6 separate regions of the Homo sapiens genome follow, and regions 2, 3, 4, 5 and 6 are each linked to region 1. Evidence: fine-mapped expression QTL. A gene starts in region 1. Each other region holds a variant in brackets. All regions are shown on one strand. Distances are between the middles of the regions.

Region 1 (5,076 bases):
TTTAAGCTTTCGTTCACAAATGGTCTGAACTTGACCAAGGATTATGATATGGAACCTTGGGATCCTCAGCTGTAAACCAACGTTAATAACCCCATTGCAGGTTGAAGTGAAGATTAGATAAGACAGCCTAGGATGAGTGTTACTCAAAGTTGCTCCAGGGAGGACACTGCAGTGTCTATCAAACTGCCTCCATAAGTAGCCCTAATTGCAGTGAAAACAAACCCTCAAGGGCTAGGTTTGGACCAAATTGCAGCTCAAATCCCAAGCAAAATGTTTTTGAGGTTTCTTGTTTTAGATTTAAAAGGTATACAATTTTTGGATTCTACTTCAAAATATATCTGTGATTGTTTTAGTATAAAAAGTGTTTTTTAATTTCAAATATTTGTGTAAAAATGACACTCAAAGAAAATCTCCTCCTCTTGTTTTTGTTTGTTTGTTTGTTTGTTTTTCAGACAGGGCCTCACTCTATTACCCAGGCTGCAGTGCAATGGTGTGATCATAACTCACTGCAGCCTTGAACTCCTGGGCTTAAGTGAAACTCCCTCCCAGCCTCCCAAGTAGCTGGGACTACAGGTGGGTGTCACCATGCCCAAGTAATTTTTAAAATTTTTGTAGAGACGGGGTCTTGCTATGTTGCCCAGGCTTCCCCACCCCTTGTTTATTCTGGAACTTCAGGTACTCCCTGGCACACTGCCCACAATCCCCAGTGCCTGCCACTCATCTTTATCTCCCTTGGAGAAAAGCAGGCTTAGTCTAAAAGCAGATAATAAATGAGCTCAGGAAAACAAATGAGTGGCTGGACATAAACAAAGAAACATGCCACTGGACATGAGCCTGGGGATGACCAGGAGGCTCACCCTTTAAACACCAAGGCCTGGAGTGGTACATGGCTTGACTGTGCGGGTTACTCTCTAAATTGCTTGCAGAGAAACATTATCCCTAACCAAATGCAAGAACATCTAGGAGGGAAATTCACAGAAGCCCTTGATCCAGTAGTTGTGTGTCTGTGCCTGTCTATGTGTGGGTGGGGGCAGGGGTGTACTTGTGTCTCTATCTTCAATCAACAGAAATCTGACATGAGCTGAATGAGGATGGCCTTGGCCTGATAGGGCTCTGGAGAGTCAGCAGCTCTTGGGTCATGGGGTTATCCGTTTTCTTATCCCTGTCCACTTCCTCTCCTACTTGCTCTTCCACCTGTGTCTGAGAATTCCCTGGCAACTAAAAACCTAGGGTTTGGCCGCTGGGCACGGTGGCTCATGCCTGTAATCCCAGCACTTTGGGAGGCTAAGGCAGGTGGATCACCTGAGGTCAGGAGTTCAAGACCAGCCTGACCAACATGTTAAAACCCCATCTCTACTAAAAATACAAAAATTAGCCAGGCGTGTTGGCACACGCCTGTAGTCCCAGCTACTCGGGAGGCTGAGGCAGGAGAATCTCTTGAACCCAGAAGGCGGAGGTTGCAGTGAGCAGAGATCATATCACTGCGCTCCAGCCTGGGCAACAGAGCAAGACTCCATCTCAAAAAAAAAAATCTAGGGTTTGGTTATCAATAGAGTTACCAGTTACCTCCTGAATAGCTGAGACTATAGGCACGTGGTGGCATGCACCTGTAGTCTCAGCTACTCAGGAGGTTGAGGTGGGTGAAACACCTGAGCCTGGGAGGCAGAGTGAACTGTATCCAGCCACTGCACTCCAGCCTGGGCTACAGGAGTGAGACCTCGTCTCAAAACAAAACAAAACAAAAAATTAAAGGGCAAACAGTAGGGAGTGGAAGGGGGTGGTGGGGTGTCATGGACTGGTGGGCAGGAGAATGGATAACTTGGAGAGGGACACCTTATCTATCCTTCCCACTGTCAGCAGGAGAGAGCAGATGCCCAGTTCCATGTAAAGCACGAGTTATGCAGGACCCACTCTGCTCTGTCAGCTCAGAAGACTTGCATTGCCCCGGGGGTCACTTCTGCCGGTAAATGGTTGAGAAGCCTTCCTCCTTGGCACCAAAGTCTCCAGCTGGTCAAAGTCATGACAAAATGCTGAGACTGCGCCACCAGCCAACTCAAGTCATGGACCCTATAATAATCAGACTCCGATGTGCCGGGCACTGTGCCGAGGGCATTAGACACACGAGAAGGTAAGAAAGTGGTAAGGATCTAGGAGAAAGGAGTAAGTTTCTTAAATGGAGTAAAGAATTAAAAAGTAAACTGTAAGAGGTGTTAGGAGGAGTTAGCTACAGGCAAGATTATCTCGGTCCTTTCTTTTTGATGCAAAGCCTAGCACATGGACTGAATAAATAACTGCCGTGGTCTCTGACCCGCGTCCTGAGCCGTGTAAGCGGCCCTGGATGTCCTGGATGGTGCCAGCGGTTAAGCACCGCGCTCGCCTCCCTCTCGCCCACCCGGAGCGAGTCCAGGGCCCGCTGGCCCCCTCCACCCTGTGGCCGCCCGGGCTTGCCCGCAAGCCGGCGGCGAGCACCCACTCTGGGGTGCAGCGCGGAGCCGGGCATCCCCGCGAGACGCTCCCGGGCCACGCTCCCCGTTCCCTGAGCCCAGGACCCCCGGCCCGGAGCCCCTTTACCCCTCGTACCGAGGCCGGGCTGCGCTCCTCCTCTGCGGCTGCGGAGGTCACACCCTACTCAGGGCCAGACAGCGGGTCTTATCCGGGACGGATCCGCCCCACTGTGGGGTGGAGACTGAGCCCAAGTTCCTGGTTGTTCCTCTGCCCACGAGACCGGAAAATCCCTCTCTAGGGGAAGCGCACCTGGGGCCCCGGGCCGGGACGGCCGCGCCAGGAGCTCTCGGAGAGGCAGGCCTCGACCCCCGGCGGGTCCGCCCTCCACACGTGCCTGCTCCCCAGGCCCGCCCGGTCCCCCGGCCTCGCCCCCTGCCCGGATTGGACAGTGTCCCCAGTATCGCCAGCCCCGCTCCTGGCCGCGCAGGGTGGGAGCAGTTGGATTCTTGGGGTCCCGTTTCCCGGGCGCTCCACACCCTCGGAGGGCCGAGCCCGGGCCACCTCGCCAGTTCCTCCCTGCGCCTGCCGCGCCCAGCTCCGCGCCAAGCCGGAGTCCCGCGGCAAATCCGCGCTTCCCCCCACCTCGGGAAACCGTTCGTCTCCCAACGGCAGGTCGTGCCGAGCCCGTGGCCGGAAAAGTAGAAAGTGAAATCTGAAGGATACATTTCATTCCCCTCTTTCACATGAAAACACACATTCCCAAAAGTTTCCAGCACTTCCCTCTTCCCTGTGCGCCCAGCAGGCCAGGAAAGCTTTGGAGTAGGAGTTAGGAGCAGCCCCGGATCTTTGTACTCCTGTGAGTGACTAAAGTTTAGACACTGTCCGTAGCTCCCAGGTTCGGCTTGGCGCGGCGCTCATCCCTTGTAATAGTTCTGTGTTTTCATATCTGCTTCCCCTGCTGGACGCAGCCTCTTGAAGACACCAACTAGGGCTAGGTCGTCTTTGCACCCATGCCCAGCACCGATTTCGCCACGTAGTGAATGCTTGCAGAATGAATCCGTTGAGTCTATAGGCAAATTCAGTTTTTTTAAAAAACAGAGAATAGCCCGTTTGGGGAGTGTTTTCCATCCGACACATCAAAATCTAAGTGGTTAATGGCACCCTTAAAGCTGGAGAGGTAACATTAAATTATTTCATTAAGATGTAATTTTAAAAGGTGGTTTAATATGGTTTAGAGCACGGGTTTTAGGATCAGACTGATTTGGATACTAAAACTGGTTCTGCCTCTTTTATCTGCATATGATAACTTAAAAAATTAAGGCTGGGCACAGTGGCTCATGCCTGTAATCCCAGCACTTTGGGAGGCCAGGGCAAGTGGATCACTTTAGCCCAGGAGTTCGAGATAAGCCTGGCCAATGTGGTGAAATCCCATCTCAAAAAAAAAAAAAAAAAAAACATATATATAGCCGGGTGTGGTGGCATGCGCCTGTAGTCCCAGCTATTCAGTCGGATGAGGTGGGATAAACACCCAAGCCCGGGAGGCAGAGGCTCAGTAAGCTGAGATTGCGCCACTGCACGCCAGCCTGGGCGACAGAGTGAGACATTGTCTAAAAAAAAAAAAAAAAAAAAAGAGGAAGAAAGAAAAGAAAAAGAAAGAAAAAAAGAAAAGAAAACAAAAAATAAATAAATAATTAGCCGGGTGCATAGCCACGCCTGTAGTCCCAGCTACTAGCCAGGCTGAAGCAGGAGGATCACTCTAAACCCAGGAGTTCAATGTTGCTGTGAGCTATGACTGCACCACTGCACTCCAGCCTGGGCGACAGGGTGAGACCTTGTCTCAAAACAAAAACAAAAACAAAAACAAAACAAAACAAAAAATTAAAGGTCAAACAGTAGGAAAAAAAATGAAATACAGATAATTCATTTCTTAAGCAAGATTAGAGAGACACTGCATCCCTTACAAGCAACAATTAGGCCAGGTGAGGTGGCTCAGACTGTAATCCCAACACTTTGGGAGGCCCAGGTGGTTGCTTGAGGCTAGGAGTTTGGGAGATTATCCTGGGCTACATGGCGAAAACCTGTCCCTAAAAAAGAAAAAGAAAAAGAAAGAAAAAATTAAGCTACATGAAAAAAATAAAGTTTAGGAATGAAGTAGATGCGTTGGCACCCCGCGTAAATAACCTTTACTAGGTGGGTGCATCCAGCCCCAGGTCACTGCCCCTTCATTGCCCCCATCTGCTGACATCTGCGCTCAGACCAGACTGAGGAAGCCATGGCCAGAGGCTAACTTTTTTAGCTTATAAAAGGCCAGGAATAAATCTGTGGTACCCTTCATATGCCAGAGTTCCCATGGGATCAGACTGAGGATAAACTTCATCAGAAACCATATCTTTGCTCAGTTTCTCCCTCTGGCCTATCCTATTTCCCTCACTTACTCGGAGGCTTCCCTCGAGAATACCCTCACTACAGCACTTGCACAAGAATCCTAGGGTCAGGCTCTGTTTCCAGGAAACCTGATCTAAGAGTATTTAAAAAATTAATATAATTGTTGAAATTCCACTCCAAGGAGCCTTTAAATTAAAGATAGGGCTGGGTGCTGTGGCTCACGCCTGTAACACCAGCACGTTGGAA
Region 2 (5,076 bases), 110 kb before region 1:
GTAAATGTTCAAACAGAAATTCTATTTTCAATTTTGTATATGTATATATAGTACTAAATAGAATTATTCACAAGCACTAGAGATTTAACTCAGAAAGGTAAATCAGTAGTTATTTCAAAAAATTTAAATTATAATTAGCAAAGACACATTTGCTTCAACATGAAGTTTAAGACTTTAGAATAAGAAAAAATCAAAATAAACAAATTTAAGGAGCACTAATAGAAAAATCACTTATGATCTTTAAATACTTCAAAAGTCATTTTAAAAAGTCTCATCCAAAATCATGTACTGGTTTATTAAATTAAAGAACATCCATATTACAGAATACTAGATAATCATTTAAATATTCTAGAGAGTATTTCATGAAATATGATATGGGAAAATACTCATGATATGTAAGCACAGAAAATTACTTCTATAGGATGATTCCACTTTGGCATAAAGATGTATACCTTTTTGGGATTAATAATAATTTCTACTTCTTTCCTTGTTCTTTTCTATGATCTATATTACTTTATAATCAGAAATATATTACTTAAAATTACAAATTATGTTCTCTTACCTGAAGGTACTACAGCATCTTGTTCAATAATTCTTGCAGAAGCCAGATCACTGATAATATATTGTAACCTTAAATGTCTGAATACTGACACAAATGGTTTTCCTTGTTCAGTTTCAAGAAAGGCCATACCTTCAAAATCTATAAAAAACCATGTAAGTTAAACAGCCATTCTTTTCAAACCTATTATTCTTAAATGTTTTTGTGGACGGGGGATACGTACATTCATGTCTATTAGAATACAAAATAAGCTAGTTTTAAAGTTCTCAAGAATTTTATAAACCTTAGGTTTACAGATAAGAACATAAGGAGATTTATTTTAAAATCCCAGGAAATTAACTTTGGTCTTAATGAAACCCCCAGGCTGGGAATTCAGCTGTTTCTGGGCATTTGGCATGTATAGTGCAGCAAGTTGGGAAAGGAAGGCTTGAGAAAGGTACTTAGGATTACACATTCTCGCCAGAATCCCCCTCCCAAGACCTGAACAGGCCAGTGAAACTCTGGAGCCCAAAAGCCTCACTCAAGGATAAGGTACACAGGACAAAGAATATCTCTTAATTTCTTTTAACTTACATTTCAGCTACATGTAATGAACACTAGTTAATATATTAATTCTCTATTGAAATACAAAATAAGAAAGACACTGTATGGCTAGGCGTGGTGGCTCACGCCTGTGATCCCAGCTACTCAGGAGGCTGAGGTGGAAAGATTGCTTGAGCCCAGGAGTTTCAGCTTGCAGTGAGCTATGATTGCACCACTGCACTCCAGCCTGTGTGACAGAGCAAGAACTTGTCTCTAAAATAAGTAATAATGATAATAATAATAATAATAATAATAATAATACTGAAAATAGAATAATTTGGCTGGGCGTGGTGGCTCACGCCTGTAATCCCAACACTTTGGGAGGCCGAGGAGGGTGGATCACGAGGTCAGGAGTTCAAGATCAGCCTGGCCAAGATGATGAAACCCTGTCTCTACTAAAAATACAAAAAAAATTAGCTGGGTGTGGTAGTGGGCATCTGTAAACCCAGCTAACTGGGAGGCTGAGGCAGAGAATTGCTTAAACCCGGGAGGCAGAGGATGCAGTGAGCTGAGATTGCGCCACTGCACTCTAGCCTGGGTGACAGAGTGAAACTCTGTCTCAAAAAAAGAAAAGAAAATAGAATAATTCAAGTTTATGAAGTATATAATTTTTTTTCTTTTAGGGAGAATTTAAGGTTATTCCTAAAAATTACCCTCAGTTACATTCCAGTGTGCTTTCATGAGTCAGAAGGAAAGGTTTAGAGTTACTGCTATCAAACAGGTATTTGTGCATGAGCCCTAGTCTATGTTTTCTGTTAAACGACATATACCCAGGAGAGTATGTATACCCAGTCCTGTTGCTATTAAGGATAAGGAGAAAAACATGACAGTTGCCATTATAGACTATTATGTCTCAAACCATGCTTCACATGGAACACAGGTTTTCTGTAGACCAGAAGGTGTTCCCCACTAAAATATTTTTTTCCTGAAAATTGTAAAAAGACAGCCAAGTTAATGAAAAGAATTTCCACATTATCTCATATATTTTTTGTATTCCCTTGGCACCTGCCTAGAGTCAGCAAAGCAAACAAGAAAGCAGTAAATTCATTAAAAAATTAATAGTTAACTTCACTTATTTATACAACAGGTGTGTGACAGTGGATTTATATCTCTTGA[G/T]TTTAAAAATAACAACATTGGTTCCAGTTCATATGTTGAATTAAATGTGCCAATTTCAGGGGGTGTGCTGAGAATACCATTTTGTTTTTACAAGTGTTCTGTCACATGAACAAGATATAAAAATCTAATTCTGGATTGTCTCATAGAAATCTGGTGATTCTAACTCATGAAGCCTTTTCGTCACGGCTGTAGAAGAGACTGGCTCATTTACTTCTGTAAGAATTTATAGAACCAAAAAAAATGTTTTAAAGTTTCTTGCTGGACAACATGTGGCCATACTTATTCCATCAGCCAAATTCAATAGCAATCCTTAAGTATAATTGTGTAGAAAACTTTCTAAATTTCTGTTGTTTCTTGTAGTCCTGATCCATATAGATCTGAAAAGTCAAATAATTAAGAAAACTTAAAAGAAATATACAAAAATATATGGCAGGTGTGGTGGCTCATGCCTGTAATCCTAGCACATTGGGAGGCCGAGGCAGGCAGATCACTCGAGGACAGAAGTTCAAGACCAGCCTGGCCAACATGGCAAACTCCATCTGTACTAAAAATACAAAATATTAGCTGGGTGTGGTGGCATGCACCTGTAGTCCCAGCTACTCGGGAGGCTGAGGCAGGAGAATTGCTTGAATCTGGGAGGTGGAGGTTGCACTGAGCCAAGATCGCACCACTGCACTTCCAGCCTGGGTGACAGAGCAAGACTCTGTCTCAAAAAAAAAAAGACAGACAGACATATGCCAAAATATAACGAGTGAGGGATCACAGGTGATTTTTCTATCCTATTTCCTAAGTATGCATCTTATTTATAATTTTAAAACTATTGAAAATGACTCTGTAAAATCTTCATAGAAAAACAAGAGCATCAGACATACATTTTGGTTTGTGCAATCAATGTCTCCTTGAAAAGTTATCTTGAACTGTATACTTTCACACCTCAGGGGCTGGGAGGGAGAGCCTCAAGTGGGAATCCAGAAGTGGACCACAGCTTGCTTCTCTAGTTTCTGCCACTTAGGCTACAGGGCAATTTCTCTTTTGATTGATTGCTGTGGTGGATCTATCTGGAGCACAAATGATCATAAGGTTCTATCAACATTTGCCTAATATCTACTGTTTCTACTGAGTCTCTTTGTCTTTTTAACTTCTTCACCATCCTTGTCTCTTTCAGCTTTTCTCTCTCTTCTATTTAAATGCTTTCCCCTACTTTTCTCCTCTATAATTTCCCTAGTCCTTCTTTAATTGCCATAACGTAACACAAAAGTATAATTTAAGATACAAGTTTAGTATTTTTGTTCTTCAAGGAAATCAAGTTATATTTCACTGATATGGTTCTTTACACATTTTTACTTCAGGAACTTTATAGAAAATTAATTTATCTGGCTCTGAGGTAGGTAATTTGACTACATAAAATAATTCTATAAAATGTATTTAACTAAGATATAAAGAGCATGAAATTTTAAAACTAAGAATATCTATTCATCAAAAGACATTTTTTTTCCTTTTGAGACAGGGTCTCACTCTGCTGTCCAGGCTGGAGTGCAGTGGTGTGTGGCCATGGCTCACTGCAGCCCTGACACCCCCAGGGTCAGGTGATCCTCCCCCCAGTAGCTGGGAATACAGACAAGTACATGCCACCACGCCCTGCTAATTCTTTTTTTTTGAGACAGAGTTTTGCTCGTTGCCCAGGCTGGAGTGCAATGGCGCAATCTCGGCCCCCTGCAACTTCCGCCTTCTGGTTTCCAGCGATTCTCCTCCTTCAGCCTCCCTAGCAGCTGGGATTATAGGCGACCACCACCATACCCGGCTAATTTTTGTATTTTTAGTAGAGACAGGGTTTCACCATGTTGGCCACGCTGGTCTCCAACTCCTGACCTTGTGATCTGCCCACCTCAGCCTCCCAAAGCGCTGGGAGTACAGGCGTCAGCCTCCCAAAGTGCTGGGAGTACAGGCATCAGCCTCCGTGCCAGGCTGCCCTGCTAATTCTTTAAACTTTTTGTAGGGACAGGGTCTTGATATGTTGCCCAGGCTGTCCTTGAACTCCTGGTCTCAAGTGAGCCTCCTGCCTTGACCTCCCAAAGTGCTGGGATTACAGGCATGAGCCACGGCACCCAACCAAAAAGACATCTTTAATAAATTAAAAAGATAACCTACAAACTGGAAGTGCAGAACATATGTATGACAAAGGATTAGTTATCAGGAATACATAAAGAATGCCTACAAATCAATAAGAAAAGACAAATCTGACATTAAAATAGGAAACATACCTGAACAGATATCTCACAGAAGAGGAAACATATGGCTAATAACCATATTAAGAGTCATTCAATCTCTTTAGTTATAAAGGACATTAAAATTAAGGCCACAATGTGACATAGTTCCATAACAACTAAAACAAAATGATATATTATACAGTGGCGTGTTGCTGCTAGCTCATAGGAGCTGTGTGCATCTCCTTTCTCATTCAGTGATGTCATGTTGGTAGCTTGCAATCAATCAGCCATGATGGGAAAATTTGTACCATGGGAATTAAGAAATGGTACTAATCAAGGATTATTTTTTCAGAGTCAGCTTATTAGCACACCACTATGTAATATATGTTAAGACGTATATACATGGTGCAATAATATATATTTATAAAGCAAAAGAATAAACATGAAGTTCAAGATAGTGGTTAGGAAAAGTCAGAGGGACACAATAGAAAAGAAGCACATGAGTTAAGACTGAAGTTACTGATGTTCTAGTACTCAAAGATTAGGTCACAAAGGCTCAACGTATTAAAAATAAACCAAAAAGGTGGCCATAAACTAAGAAAATCACGAACT
Region 3 (5,076 bases), 40 kb before region 1:
TTCAACTTTTAAGCAAACTGCGTTGCTGTGGGACACTACTATGGATTAGGATTAATATATAACAAGGTGAATCGATAGAGGAATTGGCAAGGGTGGTTCCGTTTATCAGTTAGCATTCTTAATGACTCTTTTTCTCCAAGAAAGAGATCAAGAAATGTGTTCCCTGTTAGCATGATAAATATCCATATTGATTGAATTTCAGAGTATAATAGGCCATTATCCATTCTGGGAAGACAGGGAATTCTGTCCCAAGAGGGCCCATTGTGATAGCAGGCAAAGGAAACAGAGAGGATATAGGAAGGAATGACAAAAATGAATAGATAGAAATAGGTGCCATATCACAATTGATGAAATATTGTTATTACATTAATAATGAAGAAGATACATGCCAAAAAGATCAGAGTACAATACAATGGAATACTAATGAACAATAAAAAGGAATGGAGGAACAAAACTACTGATGCAACAATACGGATGAATTGCAAAAGAATATAATGCCCAGAAAAAGAAGTCAGACACAAAAGAGTACCTACTCTATGATTCAATATATAGGATGTTCTAGAACAGGCAAAACTAACTTATGATAACACTCAGAACAGCAGTTGCATTTCTTGTGTGGAGTGGAGGGTGGGAAGGGGAGTTAATATGAAACGGGCATGGAGGAGCTTCTAGGAATGATAAAATGTCCTACCTTGATATGAGAGTAGGTTATGTGGGTATATATATGTATTTGTCAAAACTTAACGACCAGTAACCTTAAAGGATGTGCATTTCACTATATGCCAATTATACCTCCATAAAACATGTTTTAAAATCTTGAATACAATGATTTAAAAAATATTATAGAGAATTTGGAAAATTTTTTAAAAATTAAGAAGAAAGCTGGGCGCGGTGGCTCACGCCCGTAATCCCAGCACTTTGGGAGGCCGAGGCGGGCAGATCATGAGGTCAGGAGTTCGAGACCAGCCTGGCCAACACAGTGAAACCCTGTCTCTACCAAAAATACAAAAAATTAGTCAGGCGTGGTGGCGAGCGCCTGTAATCCCAGCTACTCAGGAGGCTGAGGCAGGGGAACCGCTTAAACCTACGACGGAGGTGGTAGTGAGCCAAGATCGCGCCACTGCTCTCCAGCCTGGGCAACAGATTGAGACTCTGTCTCAAAAAAAATAAAAATAAAAATAAATTAAGAAGAAAATTAAAACACTCATAACCACTAGAGTAAATAATTTTAATGATATGAAATGTAATATAAACATTACATTATCTCATTAGCATAGAGAAGAGATAAAGCATAAGATCAGAGTGAATAACTTGTTTCCTATTTTCCTATACTAAGTGGGGTACAAGGAAAGCTACAAAACTATTATTTATGCTCTTATTACTCTTATTTAAAAATCATTATACATATGAGTAAGGTCTAAAATTAAAAAATGGCAAATAGTTGGTGTTTCCAATGTTGCGACTGTATAGTGTGATTTTCTTTTTAAAATGTCCTTTATCTGTCAATAAATAATAGTCATGATAGAAAAACAGGTTTTAGGAGGAAAGATGAGAGCAACTGAGGTAATTTTCTCCGAGTGGAAAGCACACAAAGGGCCACTTGATTACAGTCTTCATTTGTAGGAAAGCTGTGAGCCTGCTGAAGACAGGAAGAGCATCTCATTAATTCTGAGTCCTAGTCCCACATCTGCCACAAAGTAGGGGCACCATAAGCATTTCTGAATAAATATTCTCCACGTTGGCTAGGCACAGTGGCTCATGCCTGTAATCCCAGAACTTTGGGAGGCCAAGGTGGGAGGATCGCTTGAGGCCAGGAGTTTGAGACCAGCTTGGGCAACATAGCGAGCCCCTCATCTCTATAAAAAATAAAAATACGTAAATATTTTTAAAAAAATTCTCCATGGCCAGGGAGAATCAATCAGCAAGAAAATGATTTTAAACTAAAGCATGAGAGATTTGGGGCACACATGAATAAGCCTTTGACTGTCAGAGATCATGAAGAAAATTCTGGAATATCTAATGCAAAAGAAATTAAGAGTATATTACTCTTTGTTCAGGATAGTTTACTTTACACACCCATCTTCCTAAAGGAAGGCATCTCAAGCTGTCAGGCTCTCCAGTTCCTCTCTAGGTATAAGATTTCTACTTCTATTATTGCTTCCTCCAGAAGACCACGGATCAGAATTACTTGTCTATTCAGAAACCGTATTTGGGCAAGAGAAGGAGAGCAGATGTCCAGCCTTAGGTACAGCCATGTTTTCAGCTAAGAGGCTCAGCTTCCACCTCAGAGCTGAACTTTACAGAACTCTCAAAGGGATTCAATTCGATGCTTGTTCCAAAGAGCAAATAACCAAGGTCCAAGGTGTCTGATTACTGTCTAAAGCAGGAGGCAGCCAACACACCCATATTGTTAAGAAACACCCCTCTTGATGAGCCTGAAATGATGTGGCTACCTCAGAGTATCGATAGCAGTCCTCTTCAGGTGGTAGAACCTAAAGAATTTTTAGTTTTTCCTTTTTAAATGTTCTAAAATAAACATGTAGCGCTTCTGCAGACAGAAAATTACAACTTGTTTCTATATTCTCAGGATGTTAAAAGAATTCAAAGAATTCTCTCTTTGAATCAGTTTTCAAGGTCAAGTTGCTTACCACCCCTAAAAGAAATTTAAATGATGTTTAGAAATAGACCTGCCTTTTCATGTCCTCCTCCTTCCCCTCTGTTGAGTAAACAATGCTTTGTTTAAGCTAACAGTTGCTGAGCCCACATTCTGTACCTGTTGGCAGCTGGCACCAGATAGGGTTGAGGTATTTCACAACTTACCATGGCCATGACTCTAGGTCAAGATCAGAGTTCAGCCACCCAAGCAGAAGTTCTTCTGTGATAAAAGCAGAGGGGAAATTACTGTGATGAAGGAAATGGCATTAAAATCATTAATCAGGATAACTTGCAGTTTGCATGAAGCTAAGCCATGAGGAAATGACACCCAACTTAATCAAAAGGCCAGTTACTGATTAGCCAAAGATACAAGGAATGG[G/C]CTAATTAGAGAAACTGTTAAAAAAAGTCAACTTTATCACACTGGTAAAATATTTTCCCACCTGTTCTTCTGTTTGGAGATACACACTACAGAAAGGATTCCTATTGTTTTGTTAGGTTAAGTACCAATACTTGTACTCAAGCTGGACACAGATTCTGAACTGAATGTTACAGCAGATCAGAAGAGGTTCCCCCTTTGAGAAAAGAGATAATCCAACTGCATCAGAGGAAAGTACAGCATACCAGCCTCCCCTCTGTGTGTGCATCTGTGTGAGTGTGTTTGTGTGTGTGTAATGACAGGCCGGCAGCCCAACCAACATTAGAATCTTTTCGTTTCCCAGTGGCGATTTTCACCGCCACCATTCTAGGATTAAAGATTTTCTTCCCTTTAAGCTGCAGGCTTATACACTCAACTTTGTCCTCGGTTTTCAGCACCCCCTCTTTCATCATCATCACACATTTTTTTCAGTTGTTCAGAATGCAAGAAATGTCTTCACTGTAGTCTAGGACTCTTGTGGAGTTCTCATGACACATAAACAGTCCCCTAATGGCAGCCCACCACCTCCTATTCCCATATCTAAGTCATATAAACAAGGCACCTTCTCTTTTCTTGTTTTTTTGAGTCAGGGTCTCCCTCCATTGTCCAGGCTGGAGTGCAGTGGTGCAATCATAGCCCTCTGCAGCCTCGAACTCCTGGACTCAAGCGATCCTCCTGCCTCAGCCTCCCGAGTCACTGGGACTACAGGTGCGAACCACCTGGATAAGGCTCCTCTTCTCAGAGTTTAGTTAGATCCTTGATACTCAAAGAGTCATCCTAGAACCAGGAGTACATGCATTCCTGGGAACTTGTTAAAAATGCAGAACCTGGCTGGGCGTGGTGGCTCACGCCTGTAATCCCAGCACTTTAGGAGGCTGAGGCAGGTGGATCATTTGAGGTCAGGAGTTTGAGACCAGCCTGGCCCACATGGTGAAACCCCATCTCTACTAAAAATATAAAAATTAGCTGGGGGGTAGTGGCACACGCCTGTAATTCCAGATACTTGGGAGGCTGAGGCAGGAGAATCACTTGAGCCTGGGAGGTGGAGGTTGCAGCGAGCCAAGATCATGCCACTGCACTCCAGTCTGGGTGACAGAGTGAGACACTGTCTCAAAAGAGAGAGATAGAAAAAAAGCAGAATCTCAGGTCCCTACCCCACACCTACTCCCAGAATCTGCATTTTTACAAGATTCCCCAAACATTTGCCTGCACAGTAGTTTGAAAAGCACTGGTCTAGATAATCTGACCAAGCAGTGTGCCTTTTGATGATAACTAAGTCCTTCTTAACCCACCTGATTACCATTTAGGCCTTGTTTGATCACATTTGCTTTTTACCTTCCAGTTTCATTCTTCCTGTTTCCCATCATTCATTGCCGACTTACCCCCTATTACCTGGGGGTTCAACTAAGGGGAGAACCAACTAGTCCTGGGACACACCCTGAGCAAAGGTACAGAGGTGGGAATGAGCTGCAGTTTCAGGAATAATGAGGAAATGCGGGAGTGACAGCAGAGGGCTCATTCCAGGGAAGGCTCAGAAACAAGGTTGGAAAAGCCAAAGTGAACTGAATGGTATGGGCCTTGCACGGCCGGCTGAGGAGTCTGGCTACAGAATACCATAGGTCATGGGAATACTGTGGAAAGTTTTTTGTTATTTGCAGACAAATGCCATAATAAAAGAAAAGCTTTAACAAGGTACTGTACTTTACTATAGGGTAAACTGGAAAGAGAGAGACTGGAGTGAGAGAGAAGGAGTTAAGAAGGCTTGAGAGACAGCTACAGGAACAGATGGGTAGAGGCAAAAGCTTGGGCAGGGTGTGGCACTGGAATATGATATATGGGGGATGTCTGGAAGGAAGACTTTATCAGAAGTAGTGACTCATGGACTGTGTAGATTTACTCATTCAATCACCAAATGTTCCTACATGACCTCTCACAGCACCTCTCCAGGCACTGATAGAGATAATGCAGTGGATAAGACAATGAACCTGCTGTCAAGGCATTTATAG
Region 4 (5,076 bases), 26 kb after region 1:
ATAATTTAGTTCCTGGCTGGTGTATTACATCCCCCCAAGAATCTCTTAAGAGATTGTCAGGTAAAGAAGGAAGGGTGAAATGACAAACATCCAGAGGGTGGGGGTGCCATTTATATTGCAATCCATCTCCCAGTGGTAGCCTTCTTTGGGAATTCTGACCAGCTGGGGGGACCTTTCCCCACAGGTTCAAGCTTTTGTCTAGCAAATCTGGGGTCCTCACTTCTGTTATGTAGATGGGAAGCAAGGTTCTCCTGGGGTTACACAGCAGGAACTTGACATTTGGAGAATGTGATTGATGAGTTCTGTCCTCCCACAGAGAAGTCCCATGGTGAGAGAGGGCTCTAGAAGCCAAGTAGCCAGGGGACTTTCCAAACTAAACATCTGCTATGAAATGCAGACCGCACTGAGCTATGCCTGACCTAGCTAGACATACAGCCTTAGGGTATCAAGCATCTCCCTAGCCAGGGTTTCCCCATTAAAACTATTCCTTTTAATTCCAGCTTTCTTACTTAGAGGACCCCTGCTGAAACATTCTAGAGGGAAGGGAGTGCATAGGTTGTGTACGTCTCTTAGTTTGCCTGTCATCTGGTAGAAAGCCAAGGCCCATAGGGATCCAGGCACATTCTAGTTTAGTTAGTGCCTGAAACAAGCAAACTGGATGAGGTACCAGTCCCAGGCATCAGGAAGGCTCAGGGCATCTGCTGCAGAGGCAAGGCTTTGTGGGGAGGGGTCACAGGGAACAACATATTCCAAAGAAGATGAAACAAAGAAAAGCAAAGTTTCCAGTTAGATACGTGGAGTTAAAGAGGAAATGGCGGTAACAGAAAGATGCAGCGACGGGTAATTCCAGAAATGAAAAGGATGGGACATCAGGCCTTTCTGCTTCAACTCAAAGTCAGATCCCTTGAACTCACAAAATAATATTGGCTGATACCCTGGAGAGGGAGGCCTTTGTTACCCTCATTTATGATGCAGGAATAATGATCAAATGCCACCTGCTTGTGTCGATGAGCCAGGCCTGACAATTAAAGGGTGGGCGCCAGGATGGGCTTTGGGAGTGTGGGATGAAAGGCACTGGATGAGAACAAAGGGGCCATGGTGGGAGTTTTCCAGCACCAGCCTCAGTTTTCTGCACAGAAGCCTCCTGCCACCTCAATGCCAGCTTTGAAGGCATAGGCAGGCAAAGAAAACCAACAAGCCAAACAAAATGCATATGGATGCTTTTAAATGGGCATGTTCCTATTCAGTGGGCATGAATTGGAGAATATTCATCTTCAGCCACCTCCTGCACCCTCAGGGCGTCAGCTCCTCCTTCCAGGACCACTGAAGAGATGGAGCCCCCACCCCAGCCCCTCTGCTACACGATGCTGCTTTACGGTCTCCCCTGCACTTCCCTTGTTTCTTGATTGGTTTCTCTGGTTATCATCTGTTTTGTCTTGCCACAGTGTGATGCCAGGGAGCAGAGGCTGGACGGTGTTCTCCTCCACACAGTGCTTGGCCAGTAGTAGGCAGACAGCAAACAGCTGAATTGATGACTCAGAAAAACTTAAACATCGCCAACTCTGTCATCTCTTTTAGTAAACCTACTGGACAATTCCATTTAAATGTATGATACTTACTTCAAACTGCACATGAACAAAACACAACTCTTTTCGTTCTTGCCCTCCCCTCTGGCCAATGACCAAGTCAAAAACGTCGAGTCATTTTCCATCCTGAGCTCTTCACCTGGATTCCCGGAGCAGCCTCATAACTAATCCGCTGCCCTCCTGTTGTGCTGTCTCTCAGACCCGTTCTCCCGAGTGATCTTCTCAAAACGAGCTTGAGCATGTCACACCACTGCTTGAAACCCTTTGGGGGCTCCCTGTCGCCCTCACATAAAGACCAAACATTTTAACCTGACAAACAAGGCCTTCCCTGATGTGGCTCTCGCCCGTCTCTCCAACCCCCTCTGCA[C/G]ATCTCAGCTCAAGTCATCCTGAGCTGCTCGCAGTTCCTCGAGTGCAGCTGCTGTTACGTTCACCCTCTGCCTCTCCTCTTATCTTTCTGGTGAATCCCTTTTTTCCTGGTTCACCTGTTCTATGAAGACTTTTTTTGACCAGTATTGTATTTCTCAGGACTCTTGACTTTAAGGGACAGAAACCCAACACAAACTAGCTTCAGTTAAAAGGGGATGTATTAACTCATTTAAGTAAGGACTAGACAGAGCCACCACAGGAATGGCTAGATCCAGACACCCAAACAATGCTGTCAGCTCTCTCTCTCTCTCTTACTCATATGTACATGTATTTTGGCTTCTTATTATGAGTTGGTCTCATCCTTTCTTGCTAGAGGAGACTGTACTCACAGAGAACTCTAGACTTACATACAGTTTGATCACTCCAGGAGAGAGTGAGGCTTCTTTCTCCCAGTCTCAGGTTATTAAAATTATGGGAAAGGCTAAGAGTAGCCTGGCTGGTGACGTGTGCCCAGCACTTGGCCCATGACTAGAGGGACAGTGTTGTGATTGACCATGCCTTGGACTCTCTTTCTTGACCTAGGAAGAAAGAATGGGTATTCCTCTTGAGGGAGCAGCTGCCAGATAAAAGAGGGAGTCTGTTATCACATAAAGAGGGTAGACCACTGATGTCTCCTTCTTACCCCTCCCTCCACCTCCATTTATGTTCCCACTGCCCTCTGTGCATAGGCACAGAAGGGGACAAAACACATTTTGGACTCAGATAGACATAGAGCCAGTTACTGGCTTTATAGTAACTATGTGACTTTGGGAATGTTTTAAGCCTCTTCGTGCCTCTGCATTTGCATCTGTACAATGTTTTAGGGATGTGTTGTGAGGGTTAAAAACCTAGGCAAATTATCTGGGACATAGTAGGTACTATGGCAGTCATAACAATTATATTTGACCATCTCCCTTTTCTAAACCATGATTTGGCCAGGCGTGATGGCTTATGCCTGTAATCCCAGCACTTTGGGAGGCCGAGGTGGGAGGATCACTTGAGACCAGGAGTTCAAGACCAGCCTGGCCAATATGGTGAAACCCCGTCTCTACTAAAAATACAAAAAGTAGCCAGGCATGGTGGTGCGTACCTGTAATCCCAGCTACTTGGGAGGCTGAGGTGAGAATCGCTTGAACCCAGGAGGGGGAGGTTGTGGTGAGAGGAGATTGCACCACTGCACTCCAGCCTGGGTGACAGAGCGAGACTCCATTTCAAAAAATAAATAAATAAAATAAAATAAAAAACAAACCATGATTTGCTTGAGGCAGGGCCTTATTTTAGGCAAAATTTAACTTGGTTATAAGAGCAGGGCTCAAATATATGATGGATTGATTTCTGTCCACTGAAACAGGATGATACTGAAAGATAAGGCAAGTTTTGCAGATGAGGGAGATATTCAGTTCTGTCTTCTTCAATCTTGGCTTTATGATACTGGCCCATTGTTATTATGTAGTCTTCTGTTTCAAGCTCTCCAAAGCATCTCCACATCTGTTACTTGACTTCACTGTGTCACCCTGGAGGGAGGACCTTGCGTTAGGCTTCATGAACAGATCTGATGAGGTATCCACAAGACACAAGGTTAACCAAGAATGGGCAGCAGGGGGCGTTGTGGACAAGCCCCGGGGAAGCCAAGGGAAAAACTGCAGAGGTTCTGAACCTAGACCTGCCCAACGTCCTGCTGACCGACTCAGGCACCTCCGGACCTGGGTGTCTGGCTATTGATTGGGTACATGCTGAAGCACGCTTGCCTCCCAGGGCATCCCATCACAAATTAGGCCCCAGCTCTGGGATCTGGCCCAACGCAGGCCCTCTCCCATGTATAGGAGCTGTGGGGACAACACAGGAGGTTAATGGGAGCTCGGCCAGGATCCCAGGAAATAAAGCACTGAGGTTTGATACACTGATGGGCACACTGTGGACAGCAGGCTGGCTGGACTGGGGCAGGTGGAGTGTTATGTGAGTTTTCGGTCACGTGCCCTCGCCGAAGCCCCGTCTCTTATATTCTTAGGCTTCCTTCGGCTTCGGTTGCCAGGAGTAGGTGCTTGTATTCTATAGAGTCGTTTATATTTGAAATCCTGCATGGATGCATTTGGTCCTCACCGCATCCTTCCTCCCTTCCGGAAACTGTACGCTCCCCTCCTTAGAAGGTCACTTCTCCACTCCATGGGGTTCTGGTGGGGCTCCCAGAATGTGCCCACATCTCCACCCTTACCCCACCCCCCGGCCCACCCAGCCACTGGAGGTGGGAAAGAGCTAGGGCTTGTCAGAAGGCAGACCTTGAAGGAGAAGAGCCTCCCAGTAGGGAGGTCAGGAATGTGCTCAAAATCCAGGCTCAGATGTCTTCAAAAGCCTGGAGAGATGTCACCCACCAGGCACTGTGGTCTTTGGCAACTCATGTGGGACAGAGGTGTAGACTAAAGAATGTTCTGCCCCATTCTCTTGCGGAGGACAGAGCAAGGGAGAGTAGAGCTCCTTCCATATTCGAATTTCCCTTTCTCCTCTTCACGGCAGGGAGTCCGACCTTTGTGTTCCTCCATCAAGTGGAATTTGTGCTGCAGGGTAGACAGCGAAAGCTGCTGAGGCATAACCGTTTTTCCCCCATTCTTTCTTTTTGTGAAAGGCAAAACTCCTCAAAGTCCTAAACTGTTAAGAGAGTTAGGTGCCCCAAGAGGAGACGGGAGAGCGGTGATGCCTTCAGGGCAGCAGCAGAAGCAATGGAAGGATGGATGAGGAACCCCACAAAGGGGAGAGAACTCTGGAGTCTGTGAAGAGCGGGGAGCTGAGACCCAACTCGTTATGTTACGGGTTGTGTGTTGCTGGATCCGGCAGGTAACAGCTTGCTGGACTGAATGTTAAAGTCTCAAGAGTTTTACAAACTGATTGACTTTACTTTTTAAATTGGCTTTATTGAGGTGTACAATTTACATACTTGGAAGCAGCTATGGTAGAAGTGTTTTTACACCATGGAGATTGGCACATACTACAATTCAGGGCTTTCTCTCTGCCCCAGAGCCAGCTGCTAAACATTTACCAGCACACCACCGAACATAAGAGTGGCTTCTTCCAATCTTATCATCCACATATC
Region 5 (5,076 bases), 21 kb before region 1:
TTGAACTGGCTGCCCCCGAAGCCATAGGACTGGCATTAATTGCTATGGCTCTTTGGGCTTCCTGAAGGCCTCATTGCTAGGAAGGGCCCTCTCCTGCTTCCTCAGCCCCCCTCTCCTCCTCTCACTTTCTTTCTGAGACCCATGGTATTCTCTAACCAACCATTAGCATAGTATCGAACTCCAGTCACACTGCGGTTTATTTTCCATCCACAATTGATTTTAGACTAGGGTTTTAGATAAGCCTCAAAAGCATTATTCTGGCTAAATGAAGCCAAACAAAGTATTTACATGAAACGCTAGAACGAACAAAGCTAATATATAGTGCTAGAAAGTGCAAAAGTGGTTGTCTGGGGCCAGTGATTGGGGGCACTGGTGAGGCAGAAGGGATACTAACTGTAGAGGAGCATGAGGCAACATCAAGGGGTGATGAAAATGTTCTTTACCTTGATTGGGGTAGTGTACCCGGATATATACATCTGCCAACACTCACTGAACTCCACTCATACCCATTAGAATGGCTACTATTCAAAACAGAACAACAGAAAACAACAAATGTTGGTGAAGATATGGAGAAACTTGAACCCTTCTACACTGCTGGTAAGAAAGTAAAATGGTACAGCCACCGTAAAAACAGTATGGTGGTTCCTCAACAAATTAAAAATAGAATTACCATATGGTCCAACAATTCCACTTCTAGGTATACATATACCCAAAAGAACAGGAAGCAGGAACTCGAAGAAATGTTTGCACATCCATGTTCACAGCAGCATTACTCACAATAGCCAAAAGTGGAAGCAAAACAAGTGTCCCTCAACAGATAAATGGATAAACACAATGTGGTGTGTGTGTGTGTGTGTGTGTGTATACACATATATACAGTGGAATATATACAGTGGAATATTATTCAACCTTACAGAGGAAGGAAATTCTGCCACATGCTATAACACTGATGAACCTAAGGACACTAAGCTAAGTGAAATAAGCCAGTCACAAAAGGATGAATACTACATGAATCCACTTATATGTACTCAAAGTAGTCAAATTCATAGAGACAGAAAGCAGAATGATAATGCTGGAGGAAAGGGAAGAGGGAGTTACAGCTAAATAGTACAGAGTTTCAGTTTTACAAGATGAAAAGAGTTCTGTGAATGGATGGTGGTGATGGTTGCAAAACAATGTGAATATACTTAATGTCACTGAACTGTTACATTTAAGAATGTTTAAGATGGTAAAATTTCATGTGTATTTATTTCACCACAATTTTTAAAAGTTGATTTTAAATGTTAACTCCTTAAAAGAAACGATGGCTCATCAAACTAACCACTTAAGATGGGTGCATTTTATGGTGGTATAAAACCTAAGTAAGAGGTCAAGTTCTCAACCTAAGTAAGAGGCTCACAGTGGCCTCTCAGGGAAGCACGCTGCTGTTATCCATCACTTAGCAACGCCCACTCTAAGGCAAAGTCCAAACCAGTGGAATCCATGTGGCTTTTGCACAGCATCATGAGTAAAATCCTCTCCTCAAGTATAACTGTTATTTAAAGAGAAAATGTGTCAAGCATGGTTAGGGTTATATCATGTTTCCTGATCTGTTCTCAGAGTTATTTTAGAATCAAAGTCCCTCGAGGAAACATGAAAGATCGCTTAATTTCATGTTCATCTTTCAGAAACACCATTGGTAAACTATTACAGGTGAGTGTGAAACTAATACAGAAATCCCAACAGGTTGATCACACAGGAACCCCAAGACGTTCATCACAAACTATTGGCATTGATCTCCAGTTCTTGTCTGTTCTATCACCAGGGATTCTCATCTGCACTTAGGCCCCTTCAGTCTCTTCTTATGGGTTACAAACTACAGGCCTCCATTTCCCAAGACCAAATTCCAAGGTTGGCCAGTAACGATGGTATCTTTTGTTGTCTTAGCAATCATAAGTCTTAGAGATAAAAGAAGAGGACCACGTCAGAAAAAAACTAAGGTCAGGTGCGGTGGCTCACGTCTGTAATCCCAGCACTTTGGGAGGCCGAGGAGGGCAGATCACAAGGTCAGGAGTTTGAGACCAGCCTGACCAACATGGCGAAACCCCATCTCCACTAAAAATATAAAAATTAGCCAGGCGTGGTGGCGCACGCCTGTAATCCCAGCTACTCAGGAGGCTGAGACAGGAGAATTGCTTGAACCCAGGAGGCGGAGGTTGCAGTGAGACGAGATCACGCCACTGCACTCCAGCCTGGGCAACAGAGCGAGACTCTATCTCAAAAAAAAAAAAAAAAAAGTATTATGTCCTGTGGTCACTGAAGTATTTAAAAATTAAAAATAATATCAGTTTGTCATTTAAAAAAAGAAAATGAATAAATTAAAGTACAGGAGGGAAGGGATTTGCAGTGAGTCAGTGATAAAGCTAGACCATTTTCCTTGTTGGGTTCTATTTGCCTGGAATATAGGCATTATGCAGCCCAGAACTTTCCTTCTGGCTCTAAAAACACAACATCACCACCTCTATTTGCCCACGTGGGGAAAAAACAAAAAGCCCTCTCTTTCCAGATGAACCAGAAAAGCAGCTTTGTTTCCTACACAGATTTCAACTGGCTCCACCTCGGAGATCTGGAACTGAGCAGAGAGTAAGCACTGCTCTCTTCAAAGTCTCACTTTGTTCTGGGGCCTCCCGCGCCCCGAAGTCATCAAGTTCCAGCTCTGTGGGCAACTCCTCCTCCCCTTGGATCAGCCATTCCCTCTCTGGGCCAGGGCAGGGTTCTGTCCCCACATCTTTCCAAAATTC[A/C]AGCTGATTCCGGCAGAAGAGCACAAAAACAGAACTGTAAAATTCTTCCACAGTGGATTTCTGATTCACGTGAGGAACTTACTATTTCTGATGCAGCAGCCGCTCCCAGTTTCTCATTCAAGATTCTCGTGAAGGCACAGGGAAGAAAAGGGAGAAACTCATGACACAATGGAAAAGACTAGGATGGTCATGAGATAATGTTAGAAGCTGAGAGGAAGTGAAACGGACTTACGGCAGATGGAGCTGGATGAAGAGTATGTGAGTGTGAGTGAGTATGAGTGTGTGTGAGTGTGTGAGTGAGTGTGTGTGTTTATGAGACAATAGGGAGATGGGGTCTGCCTCTCTAGCAGCTCTGTCTGATGTGGGGATCTATTCAGAACACCCTACCCTGAGGTGAGGAGCTGTGAGGTAGGCCCATAGCTGGCCCTCCTCATCCAAAGCAGGCCGAGAGGTGTTGGGGCGCGAATCATGGTGGCAGAGTAGATTCAAGGAGGCATGATCAGTGAGAAGCACCCTAGCAGAAATCCATGCTAGGAGTTATATTTTTAATATACATAAATACATACTTATTTATTTATTTTTGCCCAGAGAACCAGGCATTTGTGACAGAAAAAGAAGCAGAGAAGAACAAAGGGAAAACCAGCTAGCAACTGGGAATTAGACCAGGCCCATTACAATCCCTCCTCTGCTGTAAAGCTGATGCTAACACAGAAAGGTGCACGTGGTGGCACTAAAGTGTTCTGTTCACTATGTCTTTTTTTTTTTTTTTCCCCTAGACGGGGTCTCACTCTGTCACCCAGGCTAGAGTGCAGTGGCACTATCATAGCTCAGTGCAGCCTCCAGCTTTTAGGGTCCAGTGATTCTCCACCTCAGCCTCCCAAGTAGCTGTTGCTACAGGCATGAGCCACCTCGCCTGGCTCCTCACCCTGTCTTTTGACAGACTGTCTCTATACCCCAATATGGTGCCACCAGCTGCATGTTTCTGAGCAACTGAAAGTGGCTAGAGAGACTGAGAAACTAAATTTTAAATTTTGTTTCATTTTAATTATATTTAAATTTTGAAATTGATGCAGTATGAAATATTTCCCCATTACACACAGCTTTATTGCTCTGGTAGGGCTACATTGTTCAACCATTGTATGTGTAGGGCACATGTCAAGCATGTGGCATCTTTTCTAGTATTACACGTAATCACTAATCTAGTTGGTGCCAACAGATTTATTCACTTTGATATTTTTCTAGGCACTGATGCAATATTTTAATGTATTTATTTGAAGAAGTTTTACAGACAGCACAAGTTTGAGTTATTTTAACATAATTAAATTATTTTCTAGTTAAAAAGTAGCTATGGACACATTTTAAGTTTTTTTTTTTTTTTTTTTAAGACAGCATCTTGCTCTGTCACAGACGGGGTCTCACCATGTTGTCCAGGCTGGTCTTGAACTCCTGGGCTCAAGCGATCCTACCACCTCAGACTCCCAAAGTGCTGGGATTACAGGCGTGAGCCACTGCACCCAGCTACGTTTTAAGATTTAAAACAAAGGCACGTTACTGATGTACAATTGAGTGGAGTAGCAGAAGCATCACGGCTGGCACAGTAAAGAACAAGAGATGGAATTGACAAGAGAGTTCGTGAATTAACTTGGAAAGATGCAGTTTTAAAAGCGAGAGCCTTTTCACTTCGAAGTGAAATTCTTTTAAAAAACATGAATCAGTTTTTTCCATGTGGATGCAAATATTAAAGGAAAATTATTTTAGGTACTTGATTTAGTTATTGGAAAAATTTTTGAAGTATGTTTGAAATAATTTGAGCATGTAAATTGATGTGAAAACTGAACATTTCATGAAATCTAAATACAGACATTTGATGAAAAATTTGCATTCAGATTTGGATGTGCTATCAGTTTAAAATACACATCAGACTGCTACAACACAGCACGAAAAGAAGCCTATAAAATATCTCATTAATAATGTTTATATTGATTACATGTTGAAATGATATTACTTTGGGTATATTGGGTAAAATATATCTATATTATTAAGTTAATTTTGCCTGTTTCTTTACTTTTTTGAATGTAATTACTAGACAATTCAAACTTGCATTTGTGGCTTACTTTATATTTATTTATTTTTTAATTAATTAATTAATTAATTAATTTAATAGAGACGAGGTGTCACTATGTTGCCCAGGCTGACCTTGAACTCCTGAGCTCAAGCTATCCTCCCACCTTGGCCTCCCAAAGTGGTTCACCAGTGTGAGCCACCACACTCAGCCTCACTTTGTATTTCTACTGCA
Region 6 (5,076 bases), 660 kb after region 1:
ATTTCCTTGCTAGAGTGGACTTAGTTCCAAGCTTTCTAGTAGCAAACGAAAAGGACAGCCAATATTTATGAGCTTTCTCAATCTGTGGAATGAAAACAAATCAGTTTCTCAGAAGAGGTAATATTTACCCATTCCAGAGAGAAATCTGGGCATCCTTATAGAGAAGCATTGCGAAAGAAAATGAACAAACATGCTTAAGAAAATATTAAGATGCATTCATTGAAATAGGTTATCTCCCAACCATGTATTTTAGGTAACTCTATGTACCTGAATGTCACCAAAAGCAACATTTCTTCTTGACAATTCTAAAATTCAGATTTTCTGACTACTTTTCCTTCACTCTGTAGAACTTCATGGCATTTTTATACTTTGATTCCCCTATTTGTTTGCAGCATCCTTCTGACTCCGCAGTTGGAAGTAATTAGTTCCTTCAGCTTCTGCCTCATTTCCTCAGCCTCTGGCTTACCTAGCCACCTCCACCCACCCCAGACACAGGTGCAGCCTCAGTTCCTCCCTGGTCCCTAAGTCTATCCTGACTGTAGCATGAAGGGAATGCTCCGGACTCCCATGTCCCTTGCCCATCTCTGTTAGAGTCAGCGGTCCTCACACACCTGCTCTGGGCACCTGGGGAAAACACTGAGCTCCTGTTTTCCACTCATTGTCAGTCTAACTTGGGAACAAGGACCCCAAGGATATATCCTGGGCACCTGTGTTTCCCTGCTGGCTTCCCCAGTGCCTTATGGTTGATCTAGTCTTTTCGGTCTCTTGCGCATATAGCACCGTATTAGGACTGGGACTTGCTAGCATCCTGGTGCACAGTGATTCATCCCAGACAGCCCTGCCTGAATTGTGAAGATTGTCCATTTGCCAATCCCTGAACTTGCTGCTCTTGGGCTCTTCCTGTTTGATGGGGTACTTCAGCCAGTGGTTGCCATGACCAAGGGAGGAAGCCACCCCCTTTGACTTGTCCTCAGGCACAAGTCTCCAGACAGCCCACATTTGAGAAATAGAGGTAGCCCAGAGGGAGAAACTTATTAAACAGTGATATTAGAACAACACAAAGCTGTTTTTTGATGTTTTAAATAAAATTCCTCAGGCATTTGACATCTCCTAATAAATCATTTTATCATCCAAAACTAAAGACTTCAAAACAGTCCAAGAATTTAAAAAGAGCTTTTGGACTAGTCCTGTTCCCATTCCCCAAACACACACATGAAATTTTTACCCAACCCGAGTTTCAACCAACCTTTTTGAACCAACTCTGATCCTTAACCAGGGATTGGTAAAGGAACCATCCGTGGATCTTTAACCACAAAGGCACACTAACAGGGGTTGTCATAATAAACACATGCTGTATTATTCTCTCAAAGTGTCTGCAATTAGCTGATAAATCTAAGGGGTGTATGGAGGGCCAAAAAATGCCAGCCAAGCACTGTGATTCAATCCAGTAAAAACACAGCTTTCCCAATCTTAACTTAAAACATCTGGAAGGATGCAATACAGCCAATAGAGTAAAATTTATCAGTGAGGGGGATGGGCAGGATTTGTCTGGGACTGGGGCTCCTACTCATTTGAAATGTCTGGTTTCAAAAGGTAGGAAGTCACAATGGCAGTTGGTGGATTTGAAGGGTTCTCGTGGTTCTTAGCAGCCAAGACTGTATGGTAATCAGCCTGTCTGAACTGTAGCAGACAGCAGATCAGCTCAGGGACTGGAGACTGTGTGGGGGTAGGGAGGCCCGGGCAGTGGTAGCCATGGCAGAGGTGTAGACACAGCACTGGGGAATCGCTGATGGGAAATCACTAGATGCAGTGGAAGAGACTTACACAGGGTAAGGCTGATGTTAGAGGTAAGAGGCTTTAAGGTGAGGGTATGATTGATCTGCAGAGGAGAGAGGGATAAGATAACTGCATGCCTCAAGTATAATCCCATGTGAAGAGTTGGGTCTTGGCCCTGGTCCGTATTTACCTGACCTATGCTCCTTTACAAATCCCTTAACTTTTCTGAACCCCAATTTTGGAAAGCAGTTCAGTATCCTGAGTAATTGCTTGGAATCTGGAATCAAATAGCTGAGGTCAACTCACTCATGAGCAGTGTGACCTTGGGCAGGTTCCATAACCTCTCTGAGTCCCTGTTTCCTCTCTATAAAAGTGGGATAACAATAGTATCTACCTGAAGTACGAGCATAAAGTTGTTGTGTGGGAAGATTAAATGAGATCACACAGGCAGAGCCCATAGCACAGTGCCTAAAACCTGATAAGTAATCAACTAATGGTAGCTATTACTATCAAGAACTTAAGCTCTGGAGACTGAGAAGATAGACTTGGACTCTGAATGGGTTTATATTCAAATCCAAGTCCCATCACTTACTGGCCATGTGGACTCGGACAAGTTATTAAACCTCCAAATCTCAGTTTCCTCTGCTGTAAAATGGGATAAGAAAAACACCAACTTCAAGGGGCTGTATGATGGTTAAATAAAATAACAGTCATGAACGCAGAGATATTTTGTTTGGAAAATCAATCAGATTTAGGTAATAAAATTCATATTGGATTGGACGGTGAGGGAGAGCATGAGATCAAGGAAAACTGACAAGGTTTTTGTCTTATAGACAGAACTAGACAGATGTGATCGATCCACAGAAAGTTAATAACCCTTGGGTCACCAGCCAGCATGAGCACCTTATGAAAATAAGGCACCAAGAAGAGTGGTCAAAATGACCTTGGCAGTAAAGCACTTAAGAGAATGTCTGGCATGTATTCAAACAACAGTGGCTGTTAGCTCTTCCTTTGTCATTACTATTGCTACTGCTGCTACTTTTGGGCGTGGACCGTGGTTCACATGTGCTTACGCCCCATCGCCCACCCCTGGCCTTCTGCTTAATCATATTTGCTGACAAAAGCTGAACCAAGGTTAATGCTATTTTCCTGCCAACTTTTGGACAGATTTCAAAGAGAAAATAGATGGAAAAGTATGTTTGAAATCCATAAAGAGCTAAATAATTGTCATGTGTTGTTTCTGGTAAGTTGACTTTTGTACATCTCATTGGATTATTGGTGGGAGGACGAGTAAGAGAGGCAGCGGATGTACAAGAACTTTGCCAAGTTACAGGAGCTGTTTGATAT[A/G]TTTAAAGTGAAATCCACTGTGGACCAGTCCGGGTTGTATAGAAGAGTTTATTTTTTCAAATTCTAAAAATCTAATGTCCTTTGTCATGAAGTTCTCAGTTTATGCAGAGATTTCTCAAGAATCTTTACAGAACTGTGAATATCTGCACAGAGTTATAAGGAATCCCTCCCTTATCATAGGCACGGCATTTCTTTTTTCTACTTGCTCTGCTTCTTGCTTTAATAAACAACCAATCTTTATTTACTTGGCCATTTCCTGTTGGAGAACTTTTTTGTGTGTTTATAATGGACCAATCTCTTTTATCCCTTGATGGTATAGGTGTCTTTTGCTTTCACACATATTTCAGAAAGTCTTTCAGAGCATGTTCCTTGGTGTCTTATTTGTTGTAAAGGGCAAATTCTGGTTTAAAGATGTATGGGGTTTGAAGTATGCTGGTGTCAAGGATGGTTAAGTATCTACCGACCATTTACATCTGTTCAGTTGTCTAAGACAAAAACCTGAACGTTTAAGTTAGCCTTGCTCTCTCTGTCACTCTCCAAATCCAATATGAGTTCTGCCACCTAAGTGCTGGTGATTTGACCAATGAAATATCTCTATATCCATGCACATTTTAATGTAAACTGCCATCCTTTAGATAACTTATCCTAGTTTATAATTTACAGTGTTTTTTTTTTATTGTTTGGTCACTGTCTTCTTAGATTATAAACTCTACAAGGAGAAGGACTGGGTTTGTTTTTACTTATTATATTCACAATGACTAGCCTGGCACATAGTAGGCATTAAATAAATATTGGATAAATAAATGAATAAATGACACACTTCCTGCACGTCTTAATAAACTGGCATTGTAGCATATTATGTATTAATCTCCCTTTCCCCCTATAAGTGTAACCTCAGGGTCTTCTGAATACAAGTCCATATGCTGCATCTTGTAATACTCCCCTCGTCTGATTAAGTACCACCATCTTTGGGGACTTGCTGCCTTCCCAAGAGGCCAATTTCAACACCTCATTTTTAAAAAATTGCTTACCTTAAAAAAAAATGTTGTAGGCATATCATAATCCCCTGTATTAGGTCGGCCGCTTTGTAAAGGCCTCAACCCCTTTTCTTGGGAAAAACATAGAGAACTGTAGTTGGCAGGTGGGGCCCAGCCTCCCACAGAAGCGCCACAAACATTATTACAGCTGATGGCAGAAAGCACATTGGATAAGCCTGGGGATAGCCAGGCAGCTTGGGACACACAACTGGCTCAAACACATCTTCAGGACTGTCAATGTTGTCCCCATGAATTTTGAAATGATTTAATCTCTAATTAATAAAATGTTTAAAAAGTTGCCCCGTCTCTACTAAAAATACAAAAAATTAGCCAGGTGTGGTGGCAGGCGCCTGTAGTCCCAGCTACTCGGGAGGCTGGGGCAGGAGAATGGTGTGAACCTGGGAGGCAGAGCTTGCAGTGAGCCGAGATAGCGCCACTGCACTCCAGCCTGGGCAACAGAGCGAGACTCTGCCTCAAAAAAAAAAAAAAAAAAAAAAGTTGCCTTTTCTAACTAAATTCTCCACACTTTAATAGGCACACATATTGTTAACCATGGACATTACCCCAGATCCATGTCAGTTCTATAGAATCTGACTTTAAATAAAAATGGAATATGGCCACGTGCAGTGGCTCATGCCTGTAAGTCCAGCATTTTGGGAGGTGAAGGTGAGAGAATTGCTTGGGGCCAGGAGTTTGAGACCAGCCTGGGCAACATAGCAAGACCCCATCTCTAAAAAAAAAAAAAAAAAAAAAACTTTACAAATACAAATATGGAATATTATACACACGTATTTCTGGGATTCATATATGATTTTATGTACACTAATACACTATACCAAATACATTATACCACGCTTACATGCAACAAAACACATTTTGAAGCAGTTTGTGTATCTTAAACAATAAAGCTTATTCT

Which allele goes with the higher level. Positions count from the first base shown, and alleles are read on the strand shown. Sizes are in standard deviations (SD) of each study's normalised expression. Not every link is listed here.
As copies of A replace G in region 6, the expression in coronary artery of the gene that starts at base 2,622 in region 1 goes down (large effect, 0.76 SD a copy in GTEx).

Evidence for each region. PIP is the estimated chance that this variant, and not a neighbour inherited with it, causes the effect.
Region 2: its variant is fine-mapped to the expression of ANXA4 in whole blood (INTERVAL, PIP 0.91).
Region 3: its variant is fine-mapped to the expression of ANXA4 in whole blood (TOPMed, PIP above 0.99).
Region 4: its variant is fine-mapped to the expression of ANXA4 in whole blood (INTERVAL, PIP 0.99).
Region 5: its variant is fine-mapped to the expression of ANXA4 in whole blood (TOPMed, PIP above 0.99). The same link has a PIP of 0.9 or more in monocytes after LPS.
Region 6: its variant is fine-mapped to the expression of ANXA4 in coronary artery (GTEx, PIP 0.92).

The regions. Positions count from the first base shown.
Region 1 is chr2:69,739,680-69,744,755 of GRCh38, reverse strand. It overlaps ANXA4 (annexin A4), which reads right to left and starts at 2,622. Exons shown (of 13, transcript NM_001153.5): 1 at 2,581-2,622. RefSeq lists silencers at 2,354-2,593, 2,804-2,983.
Region 2 is chr2:69,850,447-69,855,522 of GRCh38, reverse strand. GMCL1 (germ cell-less 1, spermatogenesis associated) reads right to left here. Exons shown (of 14, transcript NM_178439.5): 9 at 563-700. Among named protein-coding and RNA genes, the nearest start is that of GMCL1, 23 kb to the right of the region's middle. The variant G/T (reference allele first, on the strand shown) is at 2,258.
Region 3 is chr2:69,779,319-69,784,394 of GRCh38, reverse strand. ANXA4 (annexin A4) reads right to left here. Exons shown (of 13, transcript NM_001153.5): 2 at 2,821-2,875. The coding sequence starts at 2,829. Among named protein-coding and RNA genes, the nearest start is that of SMANTIS, 17 kb to the left of the region's middle. The variant G/C (reference allele first, on the strand shown) is at 3,035.
Region 4 is chr2:69,713,356-69,718,431 of GRCh38, reverse strand. It overlaps a transcript of ANXA4 not described here. Among named protein-coding and RNA genes, the nearest start is that of ANXA4, 26 kb to the left of the region's middle. The variant C/G (reference allele first, on the strand shown) is at 1,954.
Region 5 is chr2:69,760,863-69,765,938 of GRCh38, reverse strand. All of the region lies in intron 1 of ANXA4 (annexin A4), which reads right to left. Among named protein-coding and RNA genes, the nearest start is that of ANXA4, 21 kb to the right of the region's middle. RefSeq lists an enhancer at 3,247-3,306. The variant A/C (reference allele first, on the strand shown) is at 2,781.
Region 6 is chr2:69,084,430-69,089,505 of GRCh38, reverse strand. The region is part of intron 8 of ANTXR1 (ANTXR cell adhesion molecule 1); the gene reads right to left. Among named protein-coding and RNA genes, the nearest start is that of MIR3126, 17 kb to the left of the region's middle. The variant A/G (reference allele first, on the strand shown) is at 3,124.